7 linked regions of the Homo sapiens genome follow. The protein of the gene in region 4 interacts with the protein of the main gene of each other region in a biochemical or structural test. Each region holds a gene or a part of one and is shown on either strand. Other genes may lie near its edges.

Region 1 (3,500 bases), on a different chromosome or scaffold from region 4:
ATCATTAAAAATGAAAATGAAGACAAACAAAAAGAAGAGGTCAAGAAGGAAAAATATGGAATCACTAAAGGCAAATATACATATTCTAAATACTATGAAATTGACCTTTTATTTCATATAGATATGTCTGTATTTTAGTCTAACACTATGATATGCTATGCTGTGTTGAGACAATTTGTCATCAACAGTCACCAGTCAAGAATACCTAACTAGTCCGATTCTTCCTATGGTACTACTTGAAAATAAATATTATAATTTGGAAGCTGAAATATTTCAGATCAGCATTTGTGTAAACTTTTATGTCAGTCTTGGCACTCTCCTCTCTCTCTCTCTTTCATATATATATACACACACATATATATGTACACACACATATATATATACACACATATATACACATATATATGTACACACACATATATCTACACACATATATACACATATATATGTACACACACACATATATATATGAGAGAGAGGAGAGAGAGGGTCATGTATATATATACACACACGTATATATATATATACACGTATATATATATACACACACGTATATATATATACACGTATATATATACACATATATGTGTGTGTATATGTGTGTGTGTATATATATACGTGTGTGTGTATATATATATATATATATACACACGTATATATATGGTCCCATTTGCTCAAAAAACCGATTTTACAGAGAACATAGGTTGAATTGAAACAAAATGAACAAGCAAATTTAAACTAAGAACAAAAGTAGGAAAAAGTATACTCTAATCTTAATAGGTAGTATAGTTTTGTAACCAGTGTGTTAGTTTAACGAAGAGCTTCCTGGAAGTTAAATCAGAAAGAAAAAAAAAAACATGATCGGTGACCCACCTCTCTATACTTGGTAGAGGGAAGAATAATAATTTTTAAACAGAAGCAGTTCTCCAAGGAAGAAATTGTAAAAAAATTTAAAAATGATCATAAGATACATGATACAGGTAATATTGAGCCACATAGTGGTTTTCCAGCAAATGAAAGGGTAAATTGCATGTAACATTTTTTTTGGTACAGAACCTCAATAAAAGCTCAAAGTATAATTTACAGAAGGTTTTTCTGTGGGAAACTAAACTAAGATAGCCTAAGTATTTAGTACTCAAGAGCACTGATGCTCAAACTTGGCTGCACATTGGAATCACCTAGGAAATTTTAAAAATGATTGATGCCTGAAAGTTCTGTAGTATTCCCAAAAGGTCAGATTTAATTAGTGTGGATGTGCAGCCTGGCTATTGGAACTTAAAAATGTTTATTTGACGGATGGTGAGGGTCTCAGTTTTCTGTCAAATGGGGATAATAATAGTACTTACTATAGAATTGTTGTGTGAAGGTAAAAGACATTCTAGCACACATTATTATTAATACTGATACTAGTGTTAGTACTTTTATGTTGTCATTGTTGTTTCTATCATCACCCATAAGTTACAATGTCAATTTGCATAGAATTTTTCTTAACAATTGTAAATTCTCTTAAATCATAATTGAGCATAATTTAATACATCTTTGGTCATTAGGAGCCAACTCAGAATCTTGCAAATTCTCAGAATCATTCTGATGATATTAAAAACTCTTCTTAAAGGATTGTTATGGACTGATAGACCTCTTGCAGTCTGCAAGATCAGTTCCATTTTCAAAATTAGGAAAGAGCTTAGCTTGTTGCAAGACATAGAAAAGAAACTTGTGCTACTGAAACTCATCTATTAGGACAGGGATGTCAACAAACATGGGTGACTTAAAAATCTTCAGATAACTCTCTCTCCTGTCAGGTACCCTATTCATAAATATAAATTTTACAATTATAACTCATTTACTTGCATTAATCTGTGTGTCCTCCTCTTCTAAATTGTTTATTTATTGAAATTTTGTTCCAGAATGAATTGTGAGCAGTTTATTAAGCAAACCAAGATTGTGCATAAGAAAGTCAAGACAGAGAACATGTGGACAGGAAAAGTGAAAGGAAATTAAAAGTGAGAACTTGAGCCTGAATGGTAGCAGTGTGACCAAGAACATTTACTAGAAGCAGGCCACACATTACTAGAGGCAGGCCACACATTACTAGAAGCAGGCCAAACATTACTAGAGGCAGGCCACACATTTGGCTCTGTGCTTTTTCTAACAGGAATCATTTTTGATTAAATCATTTACATAGTCCTTAGAATGTACCAAATGAATCAGCATCTCTGAGGATGGGACCTGGATGTTGGTATTTTAAAAAATATCTCCAGGTAGATCTTGCTGAGAACCAATGGCAGAACCACTGAAACTGTTGTTCTGAAGAAGCAAAAAAAAATTCCGGATACTTGAGAACATTCATATCTCATTAATTCCCACACATCTTTATTTCAAATGTTCAGGGAGTGATAAAATAAATATTTGTGTGAAATCTTCTTTATCAACTCGATTTTCCTCCAGACTTTACAGAACAGAACAAGCATCTTTCATTCTAATGAGCTGTAGAAAAAAGAATATATTAATAGAAGAACAAAAGGTTAGTAATAAAATGCTGTGGACGTAGACAATATTTTGGTCACTTTGTAGTTTTGCTTACTGATCTTTAAGACTCAACAGTGACTTATTGAGGGCAAAACTGTTGTGTTCTGATCCCTACCCAGTCAGCTACATCACTGACTTCCAGAAGCCACCAAAACATTGCTATGACTTCAGCTTTCAAGGGGAAAAAAGAATTAGCAAACAATACATATTACAAAATAGTAAAAAACATAATTTGTTGAGGAGGTGGATGTTTCAGGAAAAGCCAGTCACAAAATGCAAAGCCAAGTTCGTTTGACACAGTTGTCATTCTTTCATTTCAGATTTTCTACCTTTCATGAAAAGTCTTTCCTGCAATCCAATTTATATGCTTTTCATACTTGTAAGTGTGATACAGTTCAATGCATTCGTTAACATGATCTCCTTCATGCCTAAATACCTAGAACAGCAATATGGAATATCATCTTCAGATGCAATCTTTCTAATGGGTATGTTTGTTTTTCTCTGCCTTACTAGCACACTTTCCCCCCCACGAACAGTGTGATGGCGGGTGTAGCAAACTCCTAAGTTGAAGTGTTTTAGGATATTTTTTGACTCTGGTGGATTTCTTCCTTCTAATCTCAAGAAAGAAAGAAAGAAAGAGAAAGAAAGAAAGAAAGAAGGAAGGAAAGAAGGAAGGAAAGAAGGAAAGAAAGAAAGGGTAGGGAAGGGAAGAGGTCAGAAATACCTTGATTTTCTTCTCTCTGAAGTCAGAATGTGAATTCATAATATGAATGCAAATATTTGGGAGTGCAAAAATTACATATTTTCAGATAGGATTGTGCATTTTACTACCAAATTTTACTCTTTTTGGTTCCAGTTCAAGGATTCTATGTTCCTCCTAATTTAATTTTTTGGTCCCCCTAGTGGTTTTAGGTGTCTCTGCAGCCACACACATTCGGCTTTTCCTGCAACCACACTAACCTCAGTGGTTT
Region 2 (4,027 bases), on a different chromosome or scaffold from region 4:
CAGAACCCAAGAGGGGAGGATGAAAGCGAAGGTGACACAGGATGTGGCTTGGCAGAGAGGCGTGCACACAGAAGTAGTGGGCAGCTGGTGTGGGCAGCAGGGTGGTAGGGTTTGGGGAGGTGGAAGACCATGCTTCCCAGCTCCTGGCCTCCCTTCGTCAGCCCTGCGGGGGCCATCAGAAACAGCCCCGGTGTGTGTGATGGCTGTGCCCCTACAGGTGACTGCTTGGGTTCCAATTGCTCTCATTTCTGGAGGGGGACGGCCTCGGCTGCATTGTGGGGTGTCTTTGTGTGTGCATGTGAGGTATATTTCTGGATGGGAGTGTGTGCATATGCACACACATACATATGTGTGAGGGATGTGGCAACCGGTAACCATTGTCCTGGGAGTATTTGTATGTAGGAGAAAGGTGTGTGTTCTGTGTGGGCATGTGTGCTTGTGAATGGGAGTGTGGTACCTGTTGTCCTTCTGTGTATTTGTGAGTGTGTAAGGGCTGTGCAGGTGATTCCCGTAGCATATGAGATCTATAGGTTCTGTTGAATACTATGTCAGGAAAATGCGATGTGTTGGGCCTGGGTGAGAAGGTTGGAAACCATTGTGAATAGCTGTGGAAGGATGACTTTGTAGGAGAAACTTGTGAGTTCTTTGTTGGTGTGTGTGCGAGTCATTAAGTGACTTTGGTCACTGAGTGCGAGAGGCTGGGGTGGGAAGTGTTCGTTTAAGTAATGAGTGGGCATAATTGTGTAAGGGATGTGTTTGTTCTGCGTGCATGGGGAGCACTGTGTGACTTTTGTTCCCCTGGGTGCGATTTGGGGGAGCCAAGGAGGTATGGGTGGAGATTGTGAGTGGCTATGAGTAGGGTGTGCGAGAGCGGAGGGGAGGTGGTGACAGCAGCCCTCGCGAGTGTACACTTGTGAGCGTGCAGTTGTTTGGTAGCGGAGGGATCGGGGGAGGAAAGATGCGCGTCTGGATGCGCGCAGTGCGAGTGTGCCAGGCCGGGAGATTCAGTCCCATCCAGGCGGGCCGGGCCGGGCTGGGGGCAGGGCTTTCTGCTGCCCCGCCCATTCGTCGCCCCGCCCCTCGGACCGCCCCAGCGGGCTGCAGCGCAGCGGGCGTCCGGCAGAGGGCGCTGCGGGCCCGGTGCCACCGTGCGGCCGAGGGGGCGTGCTCGGCGGCGGGCAGGCAGCGGCCCGGCCAGCTATGCGGGGTCCTGCGGCCGCGGCTGGCGGCACTTCCTGGAGCGGCGGCGGCAGCGGCTTCCCGGGCACCTGGGCGTGGGGAGCGGGGGCGCGCGGCGCGGGGCGGGCGGAGCGAGCGCGCGCCATGGAGGTGGCGGGCGGCGCGGAGCGGGCGTGCTGAGCCCCGGCCGCCGGCCCGGCATGGGCGTCTCCCGCGGGCCCTCCGCCGGCCGGGGCTAGGGCCGGATGGAGCCGCGGGACGGTAGCCCCGAGGCCCGGAGCAGCGACTCCGAGTCGGCTTCCGCCTCGTCCAGCGGCTCCGAGCGCGACGCCGGTCCCGAGCCGGACAAGGCGCCGCGGCGACTCAACAAGCGGCGCTTCCCGGGGCTGCGGCTCTTCGGGCACAGGTGAGCGGGGCGGCGGCGGGGCAGGCACCGAGGCACCGGCAGGTTACCGCTCCCTCACCGGGGGACATTCCTCGGCCACTGGGGGTCCGGGCCACTTCGGTACTGACACTGAGTCGGGGAGAGGCTGGCACCGGCGGCACGAGCCGTCTTGGCGTGGGCACCCACTGGGAGTCATCCCCCAGGGCCGGGACACGGGCGGGATCGGTCGGCTTGGCACTGTCACCGGGTGGGGGTCATTCCCTGGCACCGGCAGTCTAGTGCGCCTCATGTGTAGTACCGTGGGAGGATCGGCTCCCAACCCTCCAGCAGGAAGATGGAATCACCCCAGCCCCCGGCACAAGCAGGTTGGGCCCCCAGGACTGGTCACCCACGCCTTCTTGGCACTGATAGAACAGGGCCTCTCTGAGCCTCCTGGCACCACTGAGGTGGGGATCACACCGCCCTTTGGACTTTCGTGGGACCAGGTTGCCTACCATCACTGCGTGGCATCTGCAGAACGTAGCCCCGTTGATACCGTCACCACACATGGCTTGTCCCCAAGCTCTGGTCACTGGTTTAATTGTTTAACATGTTAAGCTTCTCCTTGGGGTTGGGGGTGCCTGATCATCTGCCCTACCTTGCTCTTAATTAGCAGAGAGACCCCAGCCCATCCCTCTGCTAGGCAGGCAGCATGTCTCCCTCTACCCTCTTCCAGCCCATGCTGGGAAAGGGATGGGGTGGGCTGGAGTCTGGAATCTGCTGGCTGTTCAAGCTTCATCTTGCCCCCTCCCCCAGCACTCCAAATGTCACCATCTTGTGCCTGTGACAGAGCTTTGACCAGGACTCTAGCGGGGAACCGGGGGGAGAGTGTGGAAAGACTGAGTGCAGGCAGTTCATGGCAAGTGTGCTGCTCTTGGTCGTGAGCCGCTGCCTGCCCTGGTAGCCGTGGTGTAAGGTAAGGGACGTGAGGCCCCAGGAGTACCTGACCTGGCTCCCTGCGCTTCTTCCTGACCGAGCCTTGCCCTTCCCTGGTGGCCAAGGAGCTTGTAGCCAATCAGCCAAGGACCCCAGAGCCACCTCAGACTGAACTCTGACCACTTGGAGTCTGCCCAAGGCCTCCCTCTCACTTTTCTGCAGCTGCCTAGACTTGGTGGCATTCACCCCCACCCCGCCCCTTAGCTTTGCTCTGCCCCTTCCCTGGGTAGACTTTACCCACCAATAACATGGGCGGTTTTCTCCTGTCGTGTGGGCTAGCATACCCGTGATGCTGACTTGTGCCCTCTACCCGTCTCACCCGGGCTAGGGCCCACTCTTTGCACCTGCACTCTGTCTCTGAGCACATGCACAGATCTGAATTCTTACACTGGCAGATGGAGCTCCGTGGGCTCCTGTGTTACCACGCAGGCTTCAATGTCATATAAAACAGAGCAGGGAGTGAAACTTCCAGTAGCTCTGTTTTGTCACCCACAGCCCTGCAAGATGGAGCAGTTTACACCCAGCTCTGCAGGATGTAGCCTCCAGTATTCACAGGCTCCGCAGGGGGAGGGAGGGGCGCCACCAGAGGCTTCCTGTTGCTGCCCACAGGGTATCAAGTGTTGGGTTCTTCTGACCTGTGGCTGTGCCCCTTCTGAAGGGCACAGGTTTGTGGGTATAGGGATGAGCACATTCGGGAGGAAGAACAAGAAACCAGAGAACCAACAGATACCTTTATGTAATTCTCTAAAATAAGCAGGGTAGGTGGTATTCTTCCTTTTGTAAAACAAAAAAAAACCAATTTTTTGTAGAGATGAGATCTCACACAGCATTGCCCAGCCTGGTCTTGAATTCCTGACCTCAAGCAGTCCTCCCACCTCGGACTCCCAAAGTGCTGGGATTATAGGTGTGAGCCACCACACCTGGCCTGTTTCTCCATTTTTATAGATGAAAGAAACACAGTCAGAGGGGATTTGCTCAGAGTCACATAGCAAGGAAGAGGTAGAGATAAGGTTTGAAGTCAAGTTGGTGTGATTCCAAAATCCACATCCCTTTCTCTATACCAGGATCCCAAACGGAACATCACAATGGCCAAGGGAGCTTTAAGAAATACAGATTCCTAGATCTTCCCTTGGCGTGTCTGACCCATCAGGTCTGGAGGTGGGGCCTGGGCATTGTTTGAAGCTTCCCAGGTGATTCTCATGTCCCATCAAGTTTGAGAAGCACAGTAGTCCGTCACGCTGGGGAGTGTAAGTGCTCTTATAGGATGCCTGATGAGAGGAAAGAAAATTCAGCAGCACCTCTGGAAGCATGTAAGGAGTGTCCTTTGTTTGGGAGCACTGTGCTGGGGATAGTGGGGCCTTCAGAAATGAATACATTCAGAGAACCCAGTAGTATCAGGCAGAGAGCAGCAAGGGAAAGCACTTTCTCCTGGCAGGCCTGGGAGCTCACTGGGGCTGGCCTCCTTCCCTTTGACTTGATGGGGCCAAG
Region 3 (3,500 bases), on a different chromosome or scaffold from region 4:
AGGCCTAGAGGCAGGCCCCGTGTAGAGTGGTGGGCATGGCAGGCGCTCAGCAGGCGGGGCGGGACGGTGTGGCATAAGCTCGGTTTGACACTGAGGGTAGTGGGAGACAGGTCAGTGTGAGGGGCTGGGTCCTGCCACAAGGAGGGGAGGTGCTGGGCTCATGAGGCCGAGATAGCAGAGACTCAGGTGCGAGGGGTCCTGGAGGTGTGGGAATCAGCTGACAGGGTGCGGCCAGAGGGCGCTGGTGCTGTTGGGGACCCTGGTCCCAGCCTGAGCCCCGGGGTGGCTGTGAAGCTGTTTGCAGGAGGAAGATGCAGCCATGGGGTGGACAGGAAGGCCATGTGGTATGGGAGGTGCCAGGACAGGGGTGGACCCCAGTCGCCTTGGAGATGGCCAAGGTCCTGGCAGTGGCCAGGATCCAGTGGTCCTGTAGCCCTAGGGGCCCTGACTGCAACCAGGCCGGGTTCCTAGCGAGGCAGGGGAAGGGCTGTGGGGTCTGGAGGGAGGCAGGAAGGGTTCCACAGAGTCATCCCTCCCTCCATCCCAGCAGCCAGCCCCAGGATGAGAACAGCATCCCAACCACAATCCCTAGGAGGGAGAAAGGCAGCAGAAGGGGTCTCCTGCTGGGGAAGGAGGGTGCCCAAGAGGGCTTGGCTGCCACAACGCCCTTCGGGGTCCTCAGCCGCCCTAAGCCTTGGGCCTGGAGCAGTGGGTACAGGGTAGCAGTCTGAGGCTGGCGCAGGCCAGGCACTGGGGGCCACAGGCAATGACCCCTCCCACGCCCCCTCCACTTAAGGTGGCTGGCAGAGTCGGCACGATGGCTCCTCACCACAGGCAGGCTGGATTGGGGCCTGCAGGAGCTGTGGAGGGTGGCTGCCATCAACGGAAAGGGGGCAGTGCAGGACACCCTGACCCCTGAGGTAAGGCTGGGTCCTCCTCAAACCCGGACCCTCAGACCCTCTCCCTGCCCCTGCATAGGGCACCCTGGGAGACCCACCAAGGACCTCAGCTCCCTGGGAAGAAGGTCTCAGAGAGGAGGAGGTGCCTGGCGCCCCCAGTGCCAACAGCACCCACCCCCGCCTCCACAGGTCTTGCTTTCAGCCATGCGGGAGGAGCTGAGCATGGGCCAGCCTCCTGCCAGCCTGGGCACCCTGCTCCGCATGCCCGGACTGCGCTTCCGGACCTGTATCTCCACGTTGTGCTGGTAGATGCCCTTCCCCCAACCCCACCTCCACAGGGGAACCTGGAATCGGGGCTCTCGCTGGCACACGGCCCCGGCCTCTGCTGGCTCCGCTTGGTCCCACTGGCCTGCAACACCGACACCTTCCCCTCTGTCAGTCACTCCCGACAGGAGACAACCCAGGCCGGGTGGGCTCACTGAGGGGGCCTTAATAAGGGGCAAGGCAGATAAAAGAGATGCAGTAGGTAGGATCCCTAACAAAGCTCCTGGGAGGGCTGGGAGCCAGGCATGACGAAGGGGTGATCCAGGCAACAGCATGGGCCGCAAGCACCCCTGCCTGGTGTGGGGCCAGGGAGGGCGGAGAGGGCTTATCAGAGCCCAGGACCCATGGCCATCCAGCAAAGACCAAAACCGCCAAGGCCAAGGAGGGAAGGACTGTTCAGTGGCAGCTGGAGCCACGGAAGGGACATAGTCACTCCCAGACAAAGCCCCCAAGCAGAGAGGGAGGCAGAAATCCCCTGCTTCTCCCCTCCTCCAACCTCTTGCCAGCACCTCCCATCAGCCAAACCCAAAGGGAAGCCATGCTGGCAAGGGGACCTGATAAACATAGTCTAGAGACTGGCCCCGCCCCACAGAGCTGGCAGCTGAAGGGCCAGAACACTGAGCTAAGAGCAGCACACCCCCACCCTGAGCCCCCACCGCCCATTGTTCCCACCCTGCCCACCACCCCCCCCCACCCCCCACCCCCACCCTGACTTCCCTGACCCCTGCCCCAGGTTCGCCTTTGGCTTCACCTTCTTCGGCCTGGCCCTGGACCTGCAGGCCCTGGGCAGCAACATCTTCCTGCTCCAAATGTTCATTGGTGTCGTGGACATCCCAGCCAAGATGGGCGCCCTGCTGCTGCTGAGCCACCTGGGCCGCCGCCCCACGCTGGCCGCATCCCTGTTGCTGGCAGGGCTCTGCATTCTGGCCAACACGCTGGTGCCCCACGGTGAGGGGGCAAAGCTGTACACCAGAGACTTCCCTACCTTGGGGGGGTCTCGGGCTGGGAACAGCACCCCTCCTTGGAGGTGCTGGACTAGAGCAGGTACCCTGGTAGGAAGGAGGCTGCCGGAGCCGTCTAGGGACAGACGGCAGTGTCTGCACTGAGCCAGCAAGAGCGGTGAAGGAGTGGCATGGGTGGCACCAGGGAAAAGTGTGGAGTTAAAATGAGAACTAAGTGATGGATTGCAGGAGGAGGGAAACGGGGTCAAGAAGGACTCCTCGGGGCTGGCTCTGGGTGTCTGAGCGTGGAGCAGATTGTGGGTGTGGCCATGAGGCCACTCAGGACAGGATACCCAGATGGAGATGACTCCCAAACATTTACAAAGAGGCCTGAAAGTCAGGGACAAGCCCCCTGGGCTGAAGGGAGCCCTCATCTGATCTTGGGCCCCCCACCAAGCTCACTAATCCCATCTCTACCCACAGAAATGGGGGCTCTGCGCTCAGCCTTGGCCGTGCTGGGGCTGGGCGGGGTGGGGGCTGCCTTCACCTGCATCACCATCTACAGCAGCGAGCTCTTCCCCACTGTGCTCAGGTGAGGCTGGGCCTGGGCTCCAGGAGAGGGGAGCCCTGGGCTGAGCTGCGGGGCACCCCCAGGCAGGACTGGCTTCTCCCAGACCTAGATGTTCATGTCATGCATCTCCCTCTTGTGTGGTCCCCGGGGCTGCTCAGGTGCATCCCAAGCCCAGCCTGACCCCCTGGGTCTCCCTGGGCCAAGCGGGCCTGGCCCGGCGTGCAGGATCAAGGCTGTGGGCACACAGACCAGGCGCTTATAGGTGCATCTGCATTGGCAGGATGACGGCAGTGGGCTTGGGCCAGATGGCAGCCCGTGGAGGAGCCATCCTGGGGCCTCTGGTCCGGCTGCTGGGTGTCCATGGCCCCTGGCTGCCCTTGCTGGTGTATGGGACGGTGCCAGTGCTGAGTGGCCTGGCCGCACTGCTTCTGCCCGAGACCCAGAGCTTGCCGCTGCCCGACACCATCCAAGATGTGCAGAACCAGTGAGTGGACCCAGCCTCGGGACCACCCCTCCCTCCCACCAGAGAACCCTAGCACAGGGCAGCCTGCTCACCCATCCCCATCACTTGACAGAGGCGGAAGCAGAGGCCCAGACAGATAGGATTGGCCCAGAGTCACACAGTACATCTCTGGGAGAGTGGCAACCCAGGGCTCAGTCTCCGGCTGGCAGTGCTTTGACCTAGGGCTTTGTCCTCTGCCTTTCACTCCACCATTCAAGGCACAAATGGACAAGCTCCCCCAGGTCCACCCTGAGAGAGGCCAA
Region 4 (2,387 bases):
GATATCCCAATGACATGATTAACTACTTCTAACAAACAGTCTCTGTAGAAAAGTAGAGTAATTTGCCTCAACACATATATGATCATAGAATTGTAAAGAGAACCTTAAGGAAATCTGAAAGACAGTATAATCTAATTGCTTCTCGCCACGGAACTGAGATGTTTAAAAGTGAATCCCTTGCTCGTACCCAGCAAGCTAGAGAGGATGGACATCAAGGTCTCCCAATTGAGAGCCCAGTCACAACCATTATCCCCTACAGTCTTCAGCACAATGTGGGGAAATGTAAATAACCATTAGAAATGTGCTGGATAATTATGAAAGTCTTTATAACTTGTAAAAACAAAGTTCTGTTCATCTGTGATTTCATCTTAGCGAATTTTTGATAGAACAGCCTAAATTCTTTGATAGAACAGCCTAAATTTTTACTTTAAGACTTTAAATAGAGCAGTTTTAACTTGTCTAAGATTTGCAGGCAATAGAGAAATATACTGTCTGTTTCTATTACTCAGCATACCTCCTGCCTACCTGCTTGTCTTAAAAAGTGTGTGGTAAACCAGCAGATATTTAGGAAGAAACTAATAGTTGCAATCAAGAACCTATTATATCTAGATGCAGTGGCTCATGCCTGTAAATCCTGGCACTTTGGGAGGCTGAGGTGGGAGGATAGCTTGAGACTAAGGCTTCTAGACCAGCCTGGGCAACATGGTGAAACTCCATCTTAAAAAATTTTTTTTAAAAGAACCTATTATACATAGCAAATAACTTTCCCAATAACACTGCACTACAGTGTTTCTGTGGTAAGGATTTAATTGTACTTATGTTAATTGATCTTTCCTTTCTACCTTCCTGGGGTGGGTTCTCACTCTGTCACCCAGGCTGGAGTGCAATGGTACCCTCATGCTCACTGCAGCCTTGACTTCCCCAGGCTCAGGTGATCCTCTGACCTCGGCCTCCCAAGTAGCCAGGACCACAGGTGCGTGCCACCATGCCCACTTAATTTTTTGTAGAGACAGGCCTTCACCATGTTCCCTAGGCTGATCTCGAACTTCTGGGCTCGAGCAATCTGCCCGCCTCAGCCTCCCAAAGTGCTGGGATTACAGGCATGAGCCACCACACCTGGCCTGTTTTTTGAATATTCTAATTCCATTGTTACCTTGAGATAAATGAAGACATTACCAACCTGATTTACTTAAGGCAGATCCTTGAAGATCCTGCCTGAATGAACTAATGGAAGACCAGAGTTCCCTTATCTCAATGAGCTTATCTGATACAGTATCTATATCATGTGGTACCTGTAATTAGAAAAATCAAAGTCAGTCATAAACATTTAATAACCTATATCAGAATGTGATGTTTAATAACCTATATCAGAATATGATGTTTGACCGTGTCACAATATTGTTTTACCTATCCCATGCCTCTATTCCAAATGAAGGAAGTGAAGAATGCCTGGGCACTGTGGAAGGAGGGAAGGTCAGGTGTTTGGGGGATTTTGATAGGAATCAGCACTAAGCACAGACTATTTTCCTGAAAGGCAGATGTGTATGAGCTGTGGCTTGGCAGTTAAATACCACGAGGCAAGAAATTGGACTCATTAAATAAAAATTTGACTTTGGTTCAAGGTAAAAAGAGGTATTAAAAAAAAAGCTAATTGCACTGTTAATGCTTCCAGAGCTTTAGTAGATATAATTTGATAAGAAATATTTGGGAGACAAGCTTGTCAGAAAATGAACTCAGCTGCATTCTTATGCTCAGAGTCTTTCTTCTCTCTTGCTTCCCAGGGTTCTTGGGGATCTGGAAAGGATCAGTATAGCAGGGAACTGCTTGTGTCCTCCATCTTTGCAGCTGCTAGTCGCAAGAGGAAGAAGCCGAAAGAAAAAGCACAGCCTAGCAGCTCAGAAGATGAACTGGACAATGTATTTTTTAAGAAAGAAAATGTGGAACAGTGTCACAATGATACTAAAGAGGAGTCCAAAAAAGAAAGTGAGACACTGGGCAGAAAACAGAAGATCATCATTGCCAAAGAAAACAGCACTAGGAAAGACCCCAGCACGACAAAAGATGAAAAGATATCACTAGGAAAAGAGAGCACGCCTTCTGAAGAACCCTCACCACCACACAACTCAAAACACAACAAGTCACCAACTCTCAGCTGTCGCTTTGCCATCCTGAAAGAGAGCCCCAGGTCACTTCTGGCACAGAAGTCCTCCCACCTTGAAGAGACAGGCTCTGACTCTGGCACTTTGCTCAGCACGTCTTCCCAGGCCTCCCTGGCAAGGTTTTCCATGAAGAAATCAACCAGTCCAGAAACGAAACATAGCGAGTTTTTGGCCAACGTCAGCACCATCACCTCAGATTATTCCACCACATCGTCTGCTACATACTTG
Region 5 (3,500 bases), on a different chromosome or scaffold from region 4:
TGGGCCAAATAATTGAAACTTTTTCTGCTGCAGTTGTGGGTAATACAAACAATAAAATAGAAAAATAACATCTACTACATGGATTGTTCTGAGGATCAAACTGTTCACTTTTGAAAGCAGGTAACTTCCAAGCTGTTATGTAGGAACAACTTGCATTGTCACTGAATTCTTTCTACTTACTAGACTCTGCTCTTTCTCATGTATATTCCTTGTCTTCCCCAAGTTCCTCCACGTCAAAGAAATCTGTTGTAATTTCAACAGTCAATAGTGCCTTGATTCATGGGGATCATGCCAGGGGGTGGTCCCATAAGTCTTGTTTGTTTGTTTTTTGAGTCAGGGTCTCACTCTTTTGCCCAAGCTGGAATGCAGTGACCTGATCATCGCTCACTGCAGCCTAGAACTCTTGGACTCAGACAATCCTCCCACCTCAGCCTCTGGAGTAGCTGGGGCTACAGGCACACACCATCACACTCAGCTAAGTTTTTGGGTTTTTTTTTGTATTTTTGTAGAGATGAAATCTAACTATGTTGCCCAGGCTGGTATTGAACTCCTGGGCTCAAGCGATCTTCCTGCCTCAGCCTCCAACAGTGCTGGGAGTACAGATGTGAGCCACCATGCCCAGCCCCCTATAAATATTTCTTAACTGACAACATAGAGGATTCTCCCAAATATCATAGAGCTGGCTTTCAGGTAATCTATCCCCAAAAGTCAGCAACTTTAAAGGCAAATGGTAGTCATAATTTTTAAATTTGTCTATTTTTTCTATCATTTGTATATTCATATATGAATGTGAACCATATACATTTATGCCTATAGTACATATTCAGGATCTAAAAAATAAATGTTTTGCCAAATATTAGGATAGTCATGCCAAGATAAGATTCACAAAATTACTTATGTCAAATGTGTAATATACATACCAATGAAAACTTATTTATATGTTCTATATTTTATAGTATACCATGAATCTAACAGAATTCAGATGACACTAACTTAGGGAGAAGTTGCGAACCATAAAATTACAATTAAAATTAATCTATAAATTAAGTGACATAAAATTCCTTAAGAAAGAATGAAATAGCCAGGCCTGGTGGCTTGTGCCTGTAATCCCAGCAACTCAGGAGCCTGAGGCAGGAGGATTGCAGAGGCCAAGAGTTCAAGACAATACTGGGCAATGAAAGGAGACCCTATCTCTACAGAAAATAAAAAAGAATTAGCAGGACTTGGTGACATGCACCTGTAGTCCCAGCTACTTGGGAAGCTAAAGTAAAAGGATCCTTTGAGCCCACTAGATCAAGGTTGCAGTGAGCTATGATCACACCATCGCACTACTACAGCAGGGGCAAAATTGAAAAGAAAGGAAAAGAGAAGAAGAAGAATGAGATATGCCCAGGGAGTTAACAAAATAGGTCACCGTGGACATTTACCTTTGAAAGCAATATTTGCTTAGGATAAGCCAAGATGCTTATAAGGATATAAGCTGCCTGTTGACAATTCAAGGTTGATAGGATTCTGTAATGACTCACAATATTTGCCAACCCTCCCAAACCTTTGCTTCACCAAATGTTTGCTTAAGATGAAGAGTTTGGCATTAGGCACATGTTGAAATTCACCTGGGAGAATTTCCCTTCAGAGCGCCATGAGGTGACATGGCAGCTGCCCCCATGGTACACTCTGAAGGAACCTAAAGGACCATTGACCTGAGCATGTTCTCCTCTTGTGACTTTCACCACCCTCCCCGCCAAGGGTGTGCCCCCCAAAACAACAGTGGTCTGTAGATGTGAACATTAACATGCGAATGTGCACTTCATTTTATCTTATATGTCTGCACCCTAACAACTTTCAAAGCTAGTTTGAGGCTGTATGCAATAAAAGCATAGTACAATTGCCCAAAATCAATTAAGAAAATGCAGATCAAACCAAGTATAAAAAGCTTTGAACTTGAAATGTTTTCTCAATTTACTACCTTTGTCCTTTCTCTTCTTAGAATCTTAACTCCCTAGGACAGAGAATCTATCTTCTTTCCAGCTATGTCCCTGGCCTATGAAAGAGGTGCCTAGCACATAGTAGGCACTCAATAAATAAATGCTGACTGAATAAAACAATGAGAAAAGTAAGCAAAATAAATTTTTTTTTTAGCTAAAAACATCTGAATTTCTATGACTGGAAATTTAACCCTGAGCTTGCTAGTATCCGTGTGAAAGAGTCATCAAAGTTTACAGAATTCTTTGTCTAACAGAATTGCCAGAAAATAGAATAAATGCTTTTCTAGTTCCAAATTTTTTCATGAGAAACTTTCTTTGAGGGTAATGAGAAAGACTGACATCCACGTCTTTATAGATACTTTTTTTTAACACAATGTCTGACCTATGACTGATTTTGCTTTAGCGAAATGAGCAGGTAAAGTGTATTTTATATGTAGACACAAACAGTTATGTGTTATATGTATACACTAACATTTAGCACTGATTACTCTATCAAGTTTTTACCAGAAAACAGAGCCCGGGACACAAGCAACAGTTGATAAAACAGAAGAAAAACCTAGTTTAAGAGCAGAATAATGTTTAGCTGCACTCAGTGGCTCACATCTGTAATCCCAGAACTTTGGGAGGCCAAGGCAGGAGGAGCCCTTGAGTCCAGGAGTTTGAGACTGGCATAGGCGAAAAAGGGAGACCTCGTTTCTACAAAAATATATTTTAAAATTTAGCCAGGCCTGACGATGCACACGCGTAGTTCTAGCTACTCAGGAGGATGAGGCAGGAGGATCCCTTGAGCCCAGGAATTCAAGGCTACAGTGAGCTATGATCATGCCATTGCAGTCCAGGCCGGGAGACAGAATGAGACCCTCACTCAAAAGAGCAGAATAACACTTAGCTGAAGAGAGCATGTCCCAGAGAAATGTCGCAGCAGGTTCTGGGAGGCTGAAAGCAAATCAGTCATCAGAACATTTCCTGCCTCGTGCCTTTGTTCACATGTGTGTCAAATCCTATCCAGGGCTCAAACCACATTTCAAACACCCGGTATTTCTTAGCTTTTCTCCATCAGCTGCTGTAACCCAGTGTGCTAAGCATTTGCCATACAAAGACGCCAGTCACAGCTCCTGCTTCCATTGGGCTCACAGTTGAATGAGGAAAGCATTCTCTAAACAAATACTTGTAATTTAATATGATGACTGCTGTGAGAAACGCAATGCAAAGTAACATGCTTGGAAGAAGAAGCAAATTATATTGATTGGGGAACTGTTAGAAAGCACCAAAAAGTGGTAAAATTTAAGAAAGTTTTCAAGGATGAACCGGAGTTTGAAAAACAGAAAGAGGGCTGGATGCAGTGGCTCATGCCTGTAATCCCAGCACTTTGGGAGGCCAAGGCGGGTGGATGACAAGGTCAAGAGATCGAGACCATCCTGCTAACAAGGGGAAACCCTGTCTCTACTAAAAATACAAAAATTAGCCGGGCATGGTGGTGGGCGCCTGTAGTCCCAGCTACTCAGGAGGCTGAGG
Region 6 (2,174 bases), on a different chromosome or scaffold from region 4:
TGCCAAATAAGCACTAAAGTAACCAGCAAATGAATTCCAACAGCTGCTTCAGTTCTGTTCACCTCTCCATCCCATACCTATCAACAACGGGGAATGTGGAAGTTTTGGATCTGAACAGCCTAAGAAACATCTCTCCATTGCTAGTCTCCAGATCTTTCCAGGCTGCTAACAATGGAGAGCGCGGAGTCTTGGCTTTCTTCACCACACTGACGAGTGAGGCCTTGTGTGTTTAAGACCCCACTGGTAACACACACTCAGCTTCCCCCATCCTTAAAGGGTAGGGAGCCAGGGTGGGCTTCACATGGGCGGACCTGCTGCCAGTCAGCCTGTCTACTGTGAAGTCGAGTCCAAGAGGTTCCTGTCCCCTCTAGTCACATGGCCACCCTGCCCAGACTGAGCCTCCCCTGCTTCCCTGTAGAGGGGCAGGCCCGGGTGCGGAGTGGAGGCCCTTGGTGCCCATCAGTCCCCCTCCCACAGAACAGTCACCACCACACTGAGAATTTATCATAGAATAGATTTATTTACCTGAAACCATGTCTGTGCGACGCTCATTGTTACCAGCACAGAAAGAAACAAACTGATCTCTATTTACAGTCTAAAGTCAAACATGCGCAGTGATAAATTGACATTTAGCATTTTATTAAGATAAATGCATCACAATATTTGTATTGCACCAACATCTGTCTACTGCTTCTGATTTCATTAAATAAGTTACATTTAATACAGTGCGAAATAGCTGTCTGCACACTCAGAAAATAACTGAAAATGAACTGGAGGCCTACATTTTAACCATTCAACACCTGTAGTGTTTTTAATGAATTTATAAATAAGCAAACTGTACAGGGCCAATTAAAAAGTAGCATGTTCCAATGTCACTGGAGAGGGATCTGGCTACTTACAACCGAAGGCATGCATTACAATTGAATACTGTACATTTATATAAGCTATGACATTTTGCAGAGAAATGTGGCGACTTGGCTGACGGCTTCCAAGTTCTTAGATAAGGTTACAGAGCCTCATTCCTCTTGCAGCAAAGAAACCAAACTTCTCTGGAGAGGCTTTCTGATTAAGCTAAATTGTACATCTGTAATCAGTATTTTGATTTAAAAGCTAACAACCCCATTGGTAATACACATTTCCTCCACATAACACAAAGTGAGTTGGGAAGTTTTTTACTTTTCTTTTTCCCCAACATCAGTCATGCACAGGGTTGGTAGATGTGTTGCTAAAAACGCACATGCACGCAACCGAACACCCTTACATTTCTGCAAAATGGTTTAGGAAGCGGTTACTCCAGTATTGCTGAAAAGGAAAGAGAGAGGAAATCAGCTTCATGAAATACAGAGAGGAAACGTTAGAATACCTATTTAAATAGATGAAGATCAACAGCGACAGATGAAAAGGAACATTCAGCTTGATCTTTTCAAGGTTTCAAGACCAGCATTTCTGATTTACTGTCCCTGAGGTGCCGCCCACACAGGGTAGCATCTAGAAGCACTGGCTCAGTGACACAGACTCCTCGTGTCGTCTGGCTACAGAATAAAGGCTCTGGAGGAAAACCCCATGAGGCAGACACAATCGTTGCAGCTGTGAAAGCAGCGAGACAGGCAAGAGGACAAGGTCTTGGTTAGTGGTGCAGAGGGTGAGGTTGATGGAGAAGTGAGCAGCCAGTAGCAGCACAGCCTTCCTGTCCCTGCCCTGTGGGCACCCGGCTTCTGGCTGCTCGCCTGCCTTGCCTAGCCCTGGAGAGGAAACTCCTCCGCATCATTCTCCTCAGTAAAGGAGGGTGAAGCCTACCCTTCTTGCTAACTGCAGCGGGTGTTTGGACAATTTGGTGGTTACAGTCACAGGGCAACTGCTGGCTCTGCTCACAGGCACTGCAGACGTGGTATGCTCTGGCCCTGGACAGTGGCTAGATGCTTGGTAGACACTGAGCTAATCTTGTGGTCTCAGGTCTTAGGTCTGCCCACCTCAGTCAGGGCTGAAGCTCCAGTCCGAGGGGATGTGGGAGCAGCTGTTGTGAGGGAAGTCGGCCAGATGCCCTGCTTGCCTGGGAGCTCACTGAGCTCAAGGGACAGCTTCCTCCAGAATGGATCATCTGCATTCTGCAGAGTGGTGTCCCAGTTAGGGTATGTATGATTGTTGGTCTTCTGGGCAAAGCTCAGAGAGGCCAA
Region 7 (3,500 bases), on a different chromosome or scaffold from region 4:
TTCAGTGTTTGAAAGACTTCAAATTGATATTCAACACTTGTGTTTGAGTAAGTTGTGTAACTTTCCATTGGTCTACAAATAAATCATAACTGTTTTAAACTCTGAGGTTGCTTAGAAATCCAATCATGCAGAACTGTGCTTCAGGGAAAACAGTCAAATCAATTCATTGTTAATATAGAATGTTTTATATAATGTTTTTAAATAGATGTAAATTGAATTAAGGTTGAGAATTTTAAAAATTTTCAGTATCAAGTGGAAATGAAGTGTTATATTAGGGAAGAGTTTAAAAGTTTTATAATATGTACTTCTGTTGTTTCTTTGTCCTGTTTAAATTAATTTTGAGTCTGTTCAAACTATAAACTAGCCTTCTGCCTGCAGTTAACGTGACTTTACCTAAACCATGAAAGAAAATGAGATATTTCTCTGCCTAGCTAATGTGTAAAAGATACTTCCTAGAATTTTAAATTGTACAAAAGAAGTCATCACTGTGGGATTCATATTCCATACACAAAACACACACAGACACATACACACACAAACTCCTCAATCAACCTCTGTAGTGCCCTTTTTATACCTTTTCTATTTTTCAGATTATCCAAAGAAAATAATGCAAACATATCTTTGCAACCTCTTCCATTCACCAATTTTAATCCAGCCATGAAAAGCAACCCAGCATTTGTATAGAAATCAATGTATTTAAAATTATTTAGCTGAATATATTAACTTTCTGATGTTATGAACCCTAAACAAGTTCTTATGTTATATGTTGGGTTCCATAAAGTGATAATTTTTGTTTGAGTCTCTTTCAGGCTAAAATTCAGAGACTCTAATTAGTTCTTTCTTTTGGAAGGCCACATTAATATGTACTTTATTTCACTAGACAGTTAATTCTCATTTCCATTTCAGACAAGATTCCTGTGCTAAGAGAAGAAAAACTACCTGTGGTAGGAATTGGAAAGCATCTGTGTGGTATGGCAACAGGTACGTAAACATACTGATAATGTTTACATTAATGCATTAAGTTTTGGCCTAACCTGGCCCCAACCATTTCAGTGGTCTCTTTTGAATAGATATCTTATGTTTACAACTCAATAATCTTTATAGAGCACTGGCCCTGTGCTTTATTAGATGCATAGCTTTCCTATTTATCTGCTCATATTGGCCATTTTGCAGGATGAATTAAGAGTTTTGTATGTAAATACTGCATCACATTAGACCTTAAAGTTCTTTGGGTTAAATTTCAACCAGAAAAGGAAAATAAGACCATTTATGGAAACTGTATGATTCCACCTAGAAGCTACTGATTTTTTAGAGTAGTTGCTTAGAAAGAACTCAGAAACCTCTTCTACTAAAAGACTATTGTGTTTCAGGATTCTGGGGAAAAAGAAAAAAATAAATGTTAGACAAAAAAAAAAAATCTAAGATGTCTTGTCTTAGCACTTTGATCCATCAGATCTAGCATGGTAAAGTGGAAACAGCATGTGCTTTAGAATCAGATAGTCTAGCCTTCAGCTTTGTTGTGTAACCTTGTCAAATTACTTAACCTTTCTGAGCTTTGGTTACCTCATCTATAAAACAGAGATACTAATATATTAATAATTTACCGGGTTGCATGTAAAGTGTCTGGCACATAATAGTGCTCAATAAATGTTAATTATTGTTACATCATCTTCCTAACTTTTGCTAGTTTCATCATCTACCCATATGGATTACTTGGAGCATCCATAGATATTATTCATATTGGCTGGAAATGGCATTGAGTACTATATATTTGTGTTGGCCTTCATAGTTTTTAAGACTATAGTCATGTACAACATAACGATGATTTGGTCAACAATGGACTCATATATGACAGTGGTCCTATAAAATTATACCATATTTTTACTGTACCTTTTTTGTATTTAGATACACAAATACCATTGTGTTACAGTTGCCTACAGTATTCAGTAACATGCTGTACAGGTTTGTAGCTTAGGAGCAATAGGCTGTGCCATACACCCTAGGTGTGTAGTAGGCTACACTACACCATCTAGGTTTGTGTAGTACACTCTGATGTTCCTACAATGATGAAATCGCCTAATGCATTTCCCAAAACATACACCAATAGTTAAGCAATGCATGACTGTACTTTTGCATACCTTATCTCATTTAAGCCTCATAAAAGTCTTCTAAAGTAAACCAGTTCCATCCCGGGGGTAGGAGGGAGTACACTCTTTTGACCTACAGTGGCCATTTCTCATGTTCCACATAATTTTTTCCCTTGATTCACTGTATCTGAATCCTCCTTTTGTCTCTGCTGCAGTTGCTTACCCTTTTTGAAATTCCATTTTCTTCTCTTTTGCGATACTCTTATTTCCTGGTTCTTCCCCTACATCTATGCCATTCTTCTGTTTATTTCACAGTCTCCTTCCACTTCTGTCCTTAAAATACTAATATTCAGGCCAGGCACAGTGGCTTATGCCTGGAAACCCAACACTGGAGGCTGAGGTGAGATGATTGCTTGAGGCTAGGAGTTCAGGATTAGCTTGGGCACATAGGAAGACCCCATCTCTACAGAAATTTGTTGGGCACGATAGCTTGTGCATGTAGTCCCAGCTATTCAGGAGGCTGAGGTGGGAGGATCACTTGAGCCTAAGAGTCTGAGTCTGCAGTCAACTGGGATAGCACCACTGCACTGCAGCCTGGGTGACAGAGCAAGACCCTATCTCAATCGGTCAATCAATCTCAGACCCATCTGCTACACAACTAATGTGTCTTTCCCTTTAAACTCTTCGGTACTTCCTGATATAGTCCAAACTCTTTGACATAACGTTTTAGTCTCAATCTGGCTTCAGCCTTCCTCTCTTTACATTCCCTGTCTCCTACTTTGCTGTTCAGCAACATCAAACCCTGTGTGCTTTTCCATAGACTGTACTATTTCTACTATATCTGGAATTTCACCCCCATTCACCTACTCACCCAAACAAAACAACTGGTCAATTTTTACTCATCCTTCACCTCAGTTGTCACCACTCTCAGGGAGCTCCCTTAAATAAGATATGCCTCCTTGGTGTTATCATAATACCCTCTGCATATTTTTACCTTGTGGTATTTTAATTATCTGTTTATATATCTAATTCTTCCACCATGCTCTGAATTTTTTGAGTATATGGTATATACTTAGTACGATGCTTGCTATATAACAGGAACACAGTGAATATTTGAATGAATGAATAATCTTGGCTACCAATTTGCTGTGTTTCCTTGTCCCTTTCTGCATATGTGGCTTTGTCTTTTAAGTTCTTTATAAAAGATGAATTGAGATAAATTGCTAAAGCTCCTTCTAATTCTGAAATAACTTAATTCTTTTTTTTTTTTCTTCGAGACGGAGTCTCGCTCTGTCGCCCAGACTGGAGTGCAGTGGCGCAATCTCGGCTCACTGCAACCTCCGCCTCCCGGCTTCAAGCGATTCTCCTGCCTCAGCCTCCCGAATTGCTGGGACTACAGACTCGTGCCACCAC

Evidence for each region.
Region 1: the proteins of ARHGAP21 (region 4) and SLCO1A2 interact in a test that uses a peptide from one of them, tested with the Homo sapiens proteins (one large-scale study listed by IntAct).
Region 2: the proteins of ARHGAP21 (region 4) and DGKZ interact in a test that uses a peptide from one of them, tested with the Homo sapiens proteins (one large-scale study listed by IntAct).
Region 3: the proteins of ARHGAP21 (region 4) and SLC22A12 interact in a test that uses a peptide from one of them, tested with the Homo sapiens proteins (one large-scale study listed by IntAct).
Region 5: the proteins of ARHGAP21 (region 4) and PALLD interact in a test that uses a peptide from one of them, tested with the Homo sapiens proteins (one large-scale study listed by IntAct).
Region 6: the proteins of ARHGAP21 (region 4) and ATP2A2 interact in a test that uses a peptide from one of them, tested with the Homo sapiens proteins (one large-scale study listed by IntAct).
Region 7: the proteins of ARHGAP21 (region 4) and TRMT13 interact in a test that uses a peptide from one of them, tested with the Homo sapiens proteins (one large-scale study listed by IntAct).

What each region holds. Positions count from the first base shown.
Region 1 is NC_000012.12:21,296,918-21,300,417, reverse strand, and holds part of SLCO1A2 (solute carrier organic anion transporter family member 1A2), read left to right. Parts: coding exon 1-70; intron 71-2,849; coding exon 2,850-3,014; intron 3,015-3,500. UniProt on the Homo sapiens protein: Na(+)-independent transporter that mediates the cellular uptake of a broad range of organic anions such as the endogenous bile salts cholate and deoxycholate, either in their unconjugated or conjugated forms (taurocholate and glycocholate), at the plasmam membrane.
Region 2 is NC_000011.10:46,346,236-46,350,262, forward strand, and holds the start of DGKZ (diacylglycerol kinase zeta), read left to right. Parts: upstream 1-1,227; 5' UTR 1,228-1,424; coding exon 1,425-1,585; intron 1,586-4,027. UniProt on the Homo sapiens protein: Diacylglycerol kinase that converts diacylglycerol/DAG into phosphatidic acid/phosphatidate/PA and regulates the respective levels of these two bioactive lipids.
Region 3 is NC_000011.10:64,597,720-64,601,219, forward strand, and holds part of SLC22A12 (solute carrier family 22 member 12), read left to right. Parts: intron 1-796; coding exon 797-920; intron 921-1,088; coding exon 1,089-1,204; intron 1,205-1,956; coding exon 1,957-2,171; intron 2,172-2,647; coding exon 2,648-2,756; intron 2,757-3,015; coding exon 3,016-3,219; intron 3,220-3,500. UniProt on the Homo sapiens protein: Electroneutral antiporter that translocates urate across the apical membrane of proximal tubular cells in exchange for monovalent organic or inorganic anions. Involved in renal reabsorption of urate and helps maintaining blood levels of uric acid.
Region 4 is NC_000010.11:24,585,501-24,587,887, reverse strand, and holds part of ARHGAP21 (rho GTPase-activating protein 21), read left to right. Parts: intron 1-1,781; coding exon 1,782-2,387. UniProt on the Homo sapiens protein: Functions as a GTPase-activating protein (GAP) for RHOA and CDC42. Downstream partner of ARF1 which may control Golgi apparatus structure and function. Also required for CTNNA1 recruitment to adherens junctions.
Region 5 is NC_000004.12:168,500,052-168,503,551, forward strand, and holds part of PALLD (palladin), read left to right. Parts: intron 1-3,500. UniProt on the Homo sapiens protein: Cytoskeletal protein required for organization of normal actin cytoskeleton. Roles in establishing cell morphology, motility, cell adhesion and cell-extracellular matrix interactions in a variety of cell types.
Region 6 is NC_000012.12:110,349,420-110,351,593, reverse strand, and holds the end of ATP2A2 (sarcoplasmic/endoplasmic reticulum calcium ATPase 2), read right to left. Parts: 3' UTR 1,303-2,174; coding exon of another isoform or gene 1,289-1,302; 3' UTR 501-1,288; downstream 1-500.
Region 7 is NC_000001.11:100,143,163-100,146,662, forward strand, and holds part of TRMT13 (tRNA:m(4)X modification enzyme TRM13 homolog), read left to right. Parts: coding exon 1-47; exon of another isoform or gene 48-52; intron 53-906; coding exon 907-981; intron 982-3,364; coding exon of another isoform or gene 3,365-3,500. UniProt on the Homo sapiens protein: tRNA methylase which 2'-O-methylates cytidine(4) in tRNA(Pro) and tRNA(Gly)(GCC), and adenosine(4) in tRNA(His).